Linked DNA regions of Homo sapiens. The gene in region 1 interacts genetically with each later gene. Each region holds a gene or a part of one and is shown in the gene's direction. Other genes may lie near its edges.

The links.
Region 2: changes in CHD4 (region 1) and GEMIN5 together harm fitness less than expected from each alone (positive genetic interaction), as found in Homo sapiens cells (one large-scale study listed by BioGRID).
Region 3: changes in CHD4 (region 1) and MCM2 together harm fitness less than expected from each alone (positive genetic interaction), as found in Homo sapiens cells (one large-scale study listed by BioGRID).

The regions. Positions count from the first base shown.
Region 1 is NC_000012.12:6,593,746-6,597,394, reverse strand, and holds part of CHD4 (chromodomain-helicase-DNA-binding protein 4), read left to right. Parts: intron 1-1,257; coding exon 1,258-1,389; intron 1,390-1,964; coding exon 1,965-2,061; intron 2,062-2,744; coding exon 2,745-2,936; intron 2,937-3,649. UniProt on the Homo sapiens protein: ATP-dependent chromatin-remodeling factor that binds and distorts nucleosomal DNA. Acts as a component of the histone deacetylase NuRD complex which participates in the remodeling of chromatin.
Region 2 is NC_000005.10:154,931,693-154,935,341, reverse strand, and holds part of GEMIN5 (gem-associated protein 5), read left to right. Parts: intron 1-3,091; coding exon 3,092-3,243; intron 3,244-3,649. UniProt on the Homo sapiens protein: The SMN complex catalyzes the assembly of small nuclear ribonucleoproteins (snRNPs), the building blocks of the spliceosome, and thereby plays an important role in the splicing of cellular pre-mRNAs.
Region 3 is NC_000003.12:127,618,764-127,622,412, forward strand, and holds part of MCM2 (DNA replication licensing factor MCM2), read left to right. Parts: intron 1-263; coding exon 264-515; intron 516-1,934; coding exon 1,935-2,117; intron 2,118-2,309; coding exon 2,310-2,465; intron 2,466-2,899; coding exon 2,900-3,010; 3' UTR 3,011-3,649. UniProt on the Homo sapiens protein: Acts as a component of the MCM2-7 complex (MCM complex) which is the replicative helicase essential for 'once per cell cycle' DNA replication initiation and elongation in eukaryotic cells.

The DNA.
Region 1 (3,649 bases):
TCCTGGGCTCAAGCAATCTGTCTGCTTCAGCTTCCCAAAGTGTTAGGATTACAGGCGTGAGCTACTGCGCCTGACACTTCATGTTATTATCTTTATTTATTTATTTTATTATTATTGTTTTTTTTTGAGACAGACTTGTCACCCAGGCTGGAGTGCAGTGGCGTGATCTTGGCTCACTGCAAGCTCTGCCTCCTGGGTTCACGCCATTTTCCTGCCTCAGCCTCCCGAGTAGCTGGGACTACAGGCCATCGCCACCATGCCTGGCTAATTTTTTTTTTTTTGTATTTTTAGTAGAGACGGGATTTCACTGTGTTAGCCAGGATGGTCTTGATCGCCTGACCTTGTGATCCGCTCACCTCCTCCTTCCAAAGTGCTGGGATTACAGGCGTGAGCCGCCGCACTCGGCCTATTTATTTATTTATTTATTATATTTTTTGAGACAGAGTCTTGCTCTGTGGCCCAGCCTGGAGTGCAGTGGTATGATCTAAGCTCACTGCAACCTCCGCCTCTCAGGCTCAAGTGATTCTCTGCCTCAGCCTCCAGAGTAGCTGGGATTACAGGCGTGTGCCACCACGCCTGCCTAATTTTTTTTTTTGAAATGGAGTCTCGTTCTGTCGCCCAGGCTGGAGTGCAGTGGCGCAATCTCAGCTTGCTGCAACCTCCGCCGCCCGGGTTCAAGCAATTCTCCTGCTTCAGCTTCCCGAGTAGCTGGGATTACAGGCACCTGCCACCATGCCCGGCTAATTTTTGCATTTTTAGTAGAGACGGGGTTTCTCCATGCTGGCCAGACTGGTCTTGAACTCCCGACCTCAGGTGATCCGCCTGCCTTGGCCTCCCAAAGTGCTGGGATTATAGGCGTGAGCCACCGCGCCCGGCCTGATGCCTGGCTAATTTTTTTTTTTTTTTTTAGTAGAGACGGGTTTCGCCATGTTGGCCTGGCTGGTCTTGAGCTCCTGGCCTCAAGCGATCTGCCTGCCTCAGCTTCCCAAAGTGCTGGGATTACAGGCGTGAGCCACTGCACCCGGCCAACACTCTATGTTAATTATTAACTGACTGAATTCTGGTGTTTGAGCTCTAGGAAAGTATAAATTAGAGATAATTTTTGGTCAGAGACTGGTACAGTAGAGGCTCTGAAAACGTGTGATCTGTGGCATACCTAGAGGTCTGGTGTGAAACAAACGGTATTGCCAGTTTTTGAGAGGAAGTGAGGAGGGTTGCCTTTTCTGGCTCTGAGGGTTTTCTCTCCTGGACTTGCAGTGTGGACAAGAAGGGCCACGTCCACTACTTGATCAAGTGGCGGGACTTACCTTACGATCAGGCTTCTTGGGAGAGTGAGGATGTGGAGATCCAGGATTACGACCTGTTCAAGCAGAGCTATTGGAATCACAGGTGAGTGATTTTGGGTGAGGCATAGAGTTGTTTCTTTTTTTTTTTTTTTGAGATGGAGTCTTGCTCTGTCACCAAGCTGTAGTGCAGTGGCGTGATCTTGACTCACTGCAACCTCCGACTTCCTGGTTCAAACGATTCTCCTGCCTTAGCCTCCTGAGTAGCTGGGATTATTTGCATACGCCACCACACCTAGCTGATTTTTTTTTTTTTTTTTTTTGAGACGAAGTCTTGCTCTTGTCCCCCAGGCTGGAGTGCAATGGTGCGATCTTGGCTCGCTGCAGCCTCCGCCTCCTGGGTTCAAGCAATTCTCCTGCCTCAGTCTCCCGAGTAGCTGAGATTACAGGCGTCTGCCACCATGCCCAGCTAATTTTTGTATTTTTAGTAGAGACGGGGTTTCACCATGTTGACCAGGCTGGTCTCGATCTCCTGACCTCAGGTGATCCGCCCGTCTCAGCCTCCCAAAGTGCTGGCCTCCCAAAATGCTGGGATTACAGGTGTGAGCCACTGTGCCTGGCCAAGTTGTTTCTTCTATAGAAAAGGATTTTGGGCAGCTGTGTGATGTCTTTCTTCTTTAGGGAGTTAATGAGGGGTGAGGAAGGCCGACCAGGCAAGAAGCTCAAGAAGGTGAAGCTTCGGAAGTTGGAGAGGCCTCCAGAAACGCCAACAGTTGATGTGAGTGGGGGTGGAAGGGACTGTAGTTTGTTGGGTAGGACAATGTATCTTTGCTGCAGTCTAATGATGGTACTCTTAAGTAATGAAATGCAGATAGTAACTTTGTAGCTGAGATTACTTCACAAAGTCGGCTTCCCCACTTCTCCACATCTCTATATATCAGAAAGCACTAGGATTACTTTCTTCTTTTGTCATCAGAAAAAAAAAAAGGAGGTATATTTTGAATGATTGAAGAAGTGTTGTCTGGGGGGAGGGGCCACATAGCCTAGCTTTTATGCACTTACATAGGAATCTGGCTTAATTCAGGCTCAGTTCCTCTGGGTTTTGTTTGTACAGTGTAATTTGAGGGTGATTAAAGTTAAAAAGATGAATCTAAGAGGGACATAACGATTATTTACCTGGTGGATCCTGACTAGTAGAATTATTGTATTGGTAGGGAGTCTGTGACGTGCTTTTCCTCAGTGATCTGTAGGATCAAAATCAGGTCTGGTTAAGCCCTGTTTCCTGGAGGACCCTAAACTGAACATGAAATTGCAGTAATCATAGGGGATCTCTTCCCTCCGAATTTTCCGGAGCTCTTCCCCAAGAGGATCCGTGAAGACTAGTGAGGAGGAAGCAGCTGCTCTATTAGGGGAGGAGGGGAGTTCCTTGCCAGCTCTTGACTTCTCTGTTTCATCCTTCAGCCAACAGTGAAGTATGAGCGACAGCCAGAGTACCTGGATGCTACAGGTGGAACCCTGCACCCCTATCAAATGGAGGGCCTGAATTGGTTGCGCTTCTCCTGGGCTCAGGGCACTGACACCATCTTGGCTGATGAGATGGGCCTTGGGAAAACTGTACAGACAGCAGTCTTCCTGTATTCCCTTTACAAGGAGGTAAGGAAATCTGGGGTGGATAGTTTTTTGTGTGGGTGTTTTGTGTTTGAAGCCTTAACTTACACTGAGTAGAGAGATAAGGGAATAAAAAAATTGGTCTCTGACCTTCAAGAACACTGTGGATAATAGATAAACACATGTACACATGTGTTTAGTAGATAGTAGATAAATGTGATAGTGGATAAACACATGTACACAGCGGAAGATTTGAGGGCATGGAGCCCTGGGTAGGATTAGCAGTGGATCCATAGAGTATCAGTTCTAGGGGAATGATTGTGTGTTGAGGGAAGTAGAATTATGAGTAGAATTAGTATGGAAAGGCTTGGCTGGACGCAGTGGCTCATACCTGTAATCCCAGCACTTTGGAAGCCCGAGGTTGGTGGATCACCTGAGGTCAGGAGTTCGAGACCAGCCTGACCAACATGGCGAAACCCCGTCTCTACTAAAAATACAAAATTAGCCGGATGTGGTGGTGCACGCCTGTAATCCCAGCTACTTGGGAGGCTGAGGCAGGAGAATCGCTTGAACCCGGGAGGTGGAGGTTGCAGTGAGCTGAGATTGCGCCATTGCACTCCAGCCTGGGCAACAAGAGTGAAACTCCGTCTCAGAAAAAAAGTATATAAAGACTTAATGGGAGAGGTAAGACTTGTAGTTATGGTGGGACCTTGGGTTTTTGGAAAGGAGTGGGCTGGGCACTTGTATAGAGGAAGGTG
Region 2 (3,649 bases), on another chromosome or scaffold:
TTCTCTAATTTGAAGACTTAAGCAATTTCCCTAGAATGTTGAAGGAGAAATTCTGATTGGAGTGGATTTGAAAGACTGGGGGCTAAGGCAATAGAGATACACAAAGAGACAACAACTCTTTCACAAAGTTTGTTGTAAAAATGTGCATATACATGAAGCCAGAGGGGATAGATGGGGTCAAGGGAGTATTAAATGGAAAATACCAGGGACCTGTTTTTATGCTGATGAAAGTAAGGCTTGAAAAGAGGAAGAGCTTGTTGCAGGAGTAAACTATGATAAATGCAGGGGTATTGCTGAAAAGTCAAGAGGGGATTGGATTCAGATGACAAGAAGAAAGAACAGCTGGGAATATAGAAATAGGTGCAGGTAGATTTGTAGATGTGCTTGGAAGAAAAAGGTGTTCTATTCTGGTATTTCTGATTTTCTCATTGAGGCATAAGTCAGAGTGGTAGAGTCAAGTTCATCATGGGGTTGAAACTGGATATGCAAAGAAGGTATGAAAATGGTCAAAGAGAATAGGAAAACGAATGTACTAAGGAAAATTATAGGCCCAGTGTTCACTGTTGAGTGGCAAACAAAGAATCGTGGCCATAAATTTAAAGTAAACCCAAACTGTTTGAGAAAGGAGATGGTTGGATTCAGCCAGGTTTGGGGCTTTGTGGAGTAAGTACTCTTGAGGGAGAGGGAGAAGGAGACGGGGCGTACGGGTATTTTTAAAAGTTGATGATAAGGCTGGGCGCAGTGGCTCACACCTGTAATCCCAACACTTTGGGAGGCCGAGGCGGGTGGATCACCTGAGGTCAGGAGTTCAAGACCAGCCCGGCCAACATGGTGAAGCCCCATCTCTACTAAAAATAAAAAATCAGGCCAGGTGCAGTGGTGCACGCCTGTAATCCCAGCACTTTGAGAGGCCGAGGTGGGCAAATCACCTGTGGTTGGGAGTTCAAGACCAGCATGGAGAAACCCCGTCTCTATTAAAAACACAAAATTAGCCAGGCATGGTGGCGCATGCCTGTAATCCCAGCTACTAGGGAGGCTGAGGCAGGAGGATCACTTGAACCCAGGAGGTAGAGGTTGTGGTGAGCCAGGATTGAGCCATTGCACCCCAGCCTGGGCAACAAGAGCGAAACTCTGTCTCAAAAAAACAAACAAACAAAAATTAGCCAGACTTGGTGGCGCACACCTGTAAGCCCAGCTACTCAGGAGGGTGAGGCAGGAGAATCGCTTGAACCTGGGCAGTGGAGGTTGCAGTGAGATGAGATTGCACCACTGCACTCCAGCCTGAGCGACAGAGCAAGACTCTATCTCAAAAAAAAAAGTCAATGATAGTGATGGATCATGAAATCTGTGCTGCATTGGGTAGGGGGATGTATGGAAAGACAGGTGTGGGTGAGTGATAGTGAAAATGGAAGGGGACTGGATCGGCAGTCTCTTGAAGTGGGAGCAGTGTTGTAGTAGGGTTGATAGAGAGGATGAACAGAAAGGTGGTAGGCAGGAGTCAGGGGAGGATCTTCAGAATAGTATTATTCCCAGAAAGCTTGATTCAGATTTCTAAATAGCTTGATCTGTTGGTGATTAGGTTGCATAACTTGGCAGTTTTCAAAGTCCGGGTCTTCAAAGGTTGACATACTCTAGTGTTTCTTTTAAAAAAAAAAAATAAATAAAGCTGTGCTGGTGTTCTTCCCTGTCGAATGCTGTAATGTGTAGGAAGTGTGAATAGGTACAGCCACTTTGTATAATGCAGTTTTGTACTTTCTAATAAAAATGCATATATCTTAACATCCTGGCAGTTCCATTACTAGTCATCAAACCTGAAATTGTCTTAGATGTGTACATGAACATTAATAGCATTTTTTTGTTGTAAAAAAGTGGAAGCCCTTCAAAAGGAAAATGAATAAACTTTGAAATATTCACACAGTGCAGTACTAATACAATAGTGTAATGACTGGCCAGGAACTAGAGTTACGTGTATCAACATGGATGAATTACAAACAGAATGAGTGAAAAAAACAAGCTGCAGGAAAATAGATGATAGCATTTATGTGCAGTTTTAAAATATGCAAAATCTATATCTTATTTAGGAATATATACAAAGAAAGGCTAGGAATGATATAACACAATTCACAAATAGAGTTTGACCTCTGGGTAGAGGAAGAAAAGGAGAAGAGATCTGGCAAGGAGAGAGGTTTGATTGAAGTGGAATGTACAGAGGACTTCAGCTCTATTGGTAATTATTTTTCTTAGGCAGGGTAGTAGATTACTTTTTTTATGTATCTGAAGTCATTCATTTTTAAAAAGCTATTAGAATTTCTCAGTTTCTTTTGAATTCATAAAATGACAGCCTTGGAATATGCAGGTCTAGAGTGTAGAATTCTGCAACTTTTGTTAAGTTCACAGTTTAAAAAGTAGTATCACTTATAAAGAAAGAGATTATTTTCCAGTGCACTAGGACAAAATTATCTCTAGTTAGAAGAGTTGGCCGGGTGTGGTGGCTGATGCCTATAATCCCATCACTTTAGGAGGCCAACGCAGGTAGATTGCTTGAGCCCAGGAGTTTGAGACCAGCCATGAGCAACATGGTGAAACCTCATCTCTACAAAAAAATACAAAAATTAGCTGGGCATGGCATGTACCTTTAGTCCCAGCTACTCAGTCCCAGGCTGAGGTGGGAGGATTGCTTGAGCCTGGGAAGTCAAGGCTGCAGTAAGTGGTGATTGTGCCACTGCACTCCAGCCTGGGCAACAGAGAAGGAAAAAAGAAGAGTTGCTGCACCCTTGCAAAAACTATGAAAATTCCCTTAGAACAAAATCATGGTCCACTGTGAGTTTTGTACCAGGCAACATACATAGTATTACCTAGTGCCAAGAGTTTGATCATAGAGAGAAGGGTTTTAACAAAACCAGGAGGCATAAGGTGAGCACTTTAAAAAAAGGAAAAAGCAAAATTATTTTTTGTCCTCTTCCCTCCTCCGCCACCCCAAATGCACCTAACTTTAAGGAATGCGCCAATGGTAACTCCAAGCCAAAATGTTTACTAGAGACTCTGTTCTGTCTTCATTTTTTTAGTAATATTTCTAACTCTTGTTTTTTAGCTACAAGGATGGCATAGTGGTGATAATTGACATCAGTAAGAAAGGAGAAGTTATTCATAGGCTTCGAGGCCATGATGATGAAATCCACTCCATAGCCTGGTGTCCCCTGCCTGGTGAAGATTGTTTATCTATAAACCAAGAGGAAACTTCAGGTAGAGATGGTTTAAGGGAAAGTTAAGTCCACTTGAGACCTGAAGAACAGAACGGGTACAATTATATCATTTTTTATTTATTATTTATTTTTGGAGACGGAGTTTTGCTTTTGTTGCCTAGGCTGGAGCGTGATCTCGGCTCACCGCAACCTCCGCCTCCCGGGTTCAAGCGATTCTCCTGCCTCAGCCTCCCGAGTAGCCGGGATTACAGGCATGCGCCACCACGCCCAGCTAATTTTGTATTTTTAGTAGAGACAGGTTTCTCCATGTTGGTCAGGCTGGTCTTGAACTCCCGACCTCAGGTGATCCACCTGCCTCAGCCTCCCAAAATGCTGGGATTACAGGCGTGAGCCACTGCACCAGGCCGAATTATATCATTTTAATTATACCTAAAACTTCAAATTTT
Region 3 (3,649 bases), on another chromosome or scaffold:
TTTTCTTCTGAGCATTACTTTCCATAATTAATTTTTAAGACTATTTGTCTCCTGTCCCCTTGTGGAGATGAGCCCTGTGGGGACTCTGTCCCATTGTCTGGTTTGCCACCCACACCCAGAACTGCCTGGCACATGGTCAGTGTAGTCAGTCTTGTTGAAAGAGTGTCACCCTTGTAGGGCACACTCAGCCCTTCTCCAGCCACTGACCTCCCCAAAGCCACGCACACCCACAATCAGACCCACCCTCTCATGGCTTATCTTAGGACGAGATGCTGGCCCGCTTCGTGGTGGGCAGCCACGTCAGACACCACCCCAGCAACAAGGAGGAGGAGGGGCTGGCCAATGGCAGCGCTGCTGAGCCCGCCATGCCCAACACGTATGGCGTGGAGCCCCTGCCCCAGGAGGTCCTGAAGAAGTACATCATCTACGCCAAGGAGAGGGTCCACCCGAAGCTCAACCAGATGGACCAGGACAAGGTGGCCAAGATGTACAGTGACCTGAGGAAAGAATCTATGGTGAGAGCCCAGGCAGAGCCGGGAGGTGCTATGCAGAGAAGGAAGTGCAGTGTGAGCCTTCTGACCAATGCAGCGGGGGTGGTGGTCAGTCAGGCCAAAAGGTGCCAGAGCAGGGAGGCATTAAAAAAAAAATGTAGGTGCCAGGCACAGTGGCTCACGCCTGTAATCCCAGTACTTTGGGAGGCCGAGGCAGGAGGATCACGATGTCAGGAGTTTGAGACCAGCCTGACCAACATGGTGAAACCCAAAAATTAGCCGGGTGTGGTGGCACATGCCTGTAATCCCAGCTTCTCAGGAGGCTGAGGCAGGAGAATCGCTTGAACCCGGGAGGCGGAGGGTGCAGTGAGCTGAGATCGCACCACTGCACTCCAGCCTGGGTGACAGAGTGAGACTCCATCTCAAAAACAAAAACAAAAAATGAAAGTTGGGTACAGTGATTCATGCCTGTAATCCCAGCACTTTGGGAGGCCAAGGCAGGAAGATTGCTTGAGGTGAGTTCAAGACCAGGCTGGGCAACATAGTGAGGCCCTTTCTCTACAAAAAATGTTTTGAAACTTAGCTGGGCCTGGTGGTTTGTGCCTGTAGTCCCAGCTACTCAGGAAGCTAAGGAAGGAAGATCTACTTGAGCCCAGGAGTTCGAGGCTACAGTGAGCTATGATGGCACCACTGCACTCTAGCCTTGGTGACACAGTGAAACCCTGTTTCAAAAAAAAAATATTTTTTTAAATGATAGGTATTAATATATACCTTAACCATTTTGTTTTAGATGAAATTTAAATGTGCATTCATTTGTCTCAGTGTAGGGCCAAGGCCTTAATTGTTGATGTGCTTATTAAGTTCCATATTGACTTTGTGTAAATTTCACTCTAATGAACACAAGGTCTTTGGCTCATTCATAGTGGAATGGAAACTTAAAGCAGCTTGCAAGCCATGGGAATGCCGAGTCCTTGTAGATTGCTGCCTCAGCCACACCCAGTCAACACAGCAGCTTTTCAAATTTCTGCCTTTTAACTTTACCAAGTTTTTTCAGATCATTCAATTTAGTTTTCCTACAAACAACGACCTTTTTTTGCACTTACATTGTACAGGATTATTCAATATTTAGTGTGTGACAATAACCAATACAGCTGGCCACAAATACAACAGCCTCTGAGATGCACAGAAGTCAGCTGGTGGGAGCAGAACTGTGCAGGTGTGATGGTGACAGGCCGTAAGCATGCAGCATCCACTGGCATCCTCTGATTTCCAGGAGGGATAGGAAGTGTGCATTCACTGGGCAGCGCAGTCAAGCATTCTGCATTTCTGCTGGGGCACTGTCAGATGGGTCTTCTTGGCTCTGGGTGCTAAGAGTGCCGCTGCTTTATTTTCCTTGCTTCTCTTTCCTGCCCGTGAAAGACCTGACACTGTGCTTCTCTCCAGGCGACAGGCAGCATCCCCATTACGGTGCGGCACATCGAGTCCATGATCCGCATGGCGGAGGCCCACGCGCGCATCCATCTGCGGGACTATGTGATCGAAGACGACGTCAACATGGCCATCCGCGTGATGCTGGAGAGCTTCATAGACACACAGAAGTTCAGCGTCATGCGCAGCATGCGCAAGGTGGGTGTGCTCCGAGGTAGGGGCCTGATGGGCAAGCTCAGTGAAGGAGGCCACACGTGGGTATCCAGGGCTCTGGCCTGGACGTGCACCCAGGAGCGGCAGCCTGTCTGACCTGGGTGCTGGCACGTAGGGTAAAGGGAGTGTGGCAGGCGTAGTGGGAGCGGGTGTTTGACTGAGGCTTTTTTCCTGCAGACTTTTGCCCGCTACCTTTCATTCCGGCGTGACAACAATGAGCTGTTGCTCTTCATACTGAAGCAGTTAGTGGCAGAGCAGGTGACATATCAGCGCAACCGCTTTGGGGCCCAGCAGGACACTATTGAGGTCCCTGAGAAGGACTTGGTGGATAAGGTATGGGCCCGGAAGGGAGGTGAGGGTTGGGGTATGCTGACTTGGGAGCTGCCAGTCTCCTGATGGGGGCTCCATCATAATGGGTCATGAAGTGGGTGGGCCTTGGTTGACAGCCATTTATTGAATGCTTACAGTCTGTTGAGTCCAGTTCTGTGCCTGTAGTCTGACAGCAGGGGAGTGAGGTGAGTCCTGTTACTGCCTTCCTGTTGTGCAGAGGTGGAGACAGATACAGGGCAGCCAAGTAACTTGTCTCAGTTTACACGCACAGCTTGTACAGCAGAGATTTGAAGCCCCTTAATCGGCCTCTCCACCCCTGGATATTTTCCTCCCATAAATGGAGGTGATGGTGTCTGAAAGTGCACTGTAACTGGGGCGCTCTGGAAACAGCCTGTTCTCACACCACTGATGGCTCACTGGACACTTCCTCCTTGCAGGCTCGTCAGATCAACATCCACAACCTCTCTGCATTTTATGACAGTGAGCTCTTCAGGATGAACAAGTTCAGCCACGACCTGAAAAGGAAAATGATCCTGCAGCAGTTCTGAGGCCCTATGCCATCCATAAGGATTCCTTGGGATTCTGGTTTGGGGTGGTCAGTGCCCTCTGTGCTTTATGGACACAAAACCAGAGCACTTGATGAACTCGGGGTACTAGGGTCAGGGCTTATAGCAGGATGTCTGGCTGCACCTGGCATGACTGTTTGTTTCTCCAAGCCTGCTTTGTGCTTCTCACCTTTGGGTGGGATGCCTTGCCAGTGTGTCTTACTTGGTTGCTGAACATCTTGCCACCTCCGAGTGCTTTGTCTCCACTCAGTACCTTGGATCAGAGCTGCTGAGTTCAGGATGCCTGCGTGTGGTTTAGGTGTTAGCCTTCTTACATGGATGTCAGGAGAGCTGCTGCCCTCTTGGCGTGAGTTGCGTATTCAGGCTGCTTTTGCTGCCTTTGGCCAGAGAGCTGGTTGAAGATGTTTGTAATCGTTTTCAGTCTCCTGCAGGTTTCTGTGCCCCTGTGGTGGAAGAGGGCACGACAGTGCCAGCGCAGCGTTCTGGGCTCCTCAGTCGCAGGGGTGGGATGTGAGTCATGCGGATTATCCACTCGCCACAGTTATCAGCTGCCATTGCTCCCTGTCTGTTTCCCCACTCTCTTATTTGTGCATTCGGTTTGGTTTCTGTAGTTTTAATTTT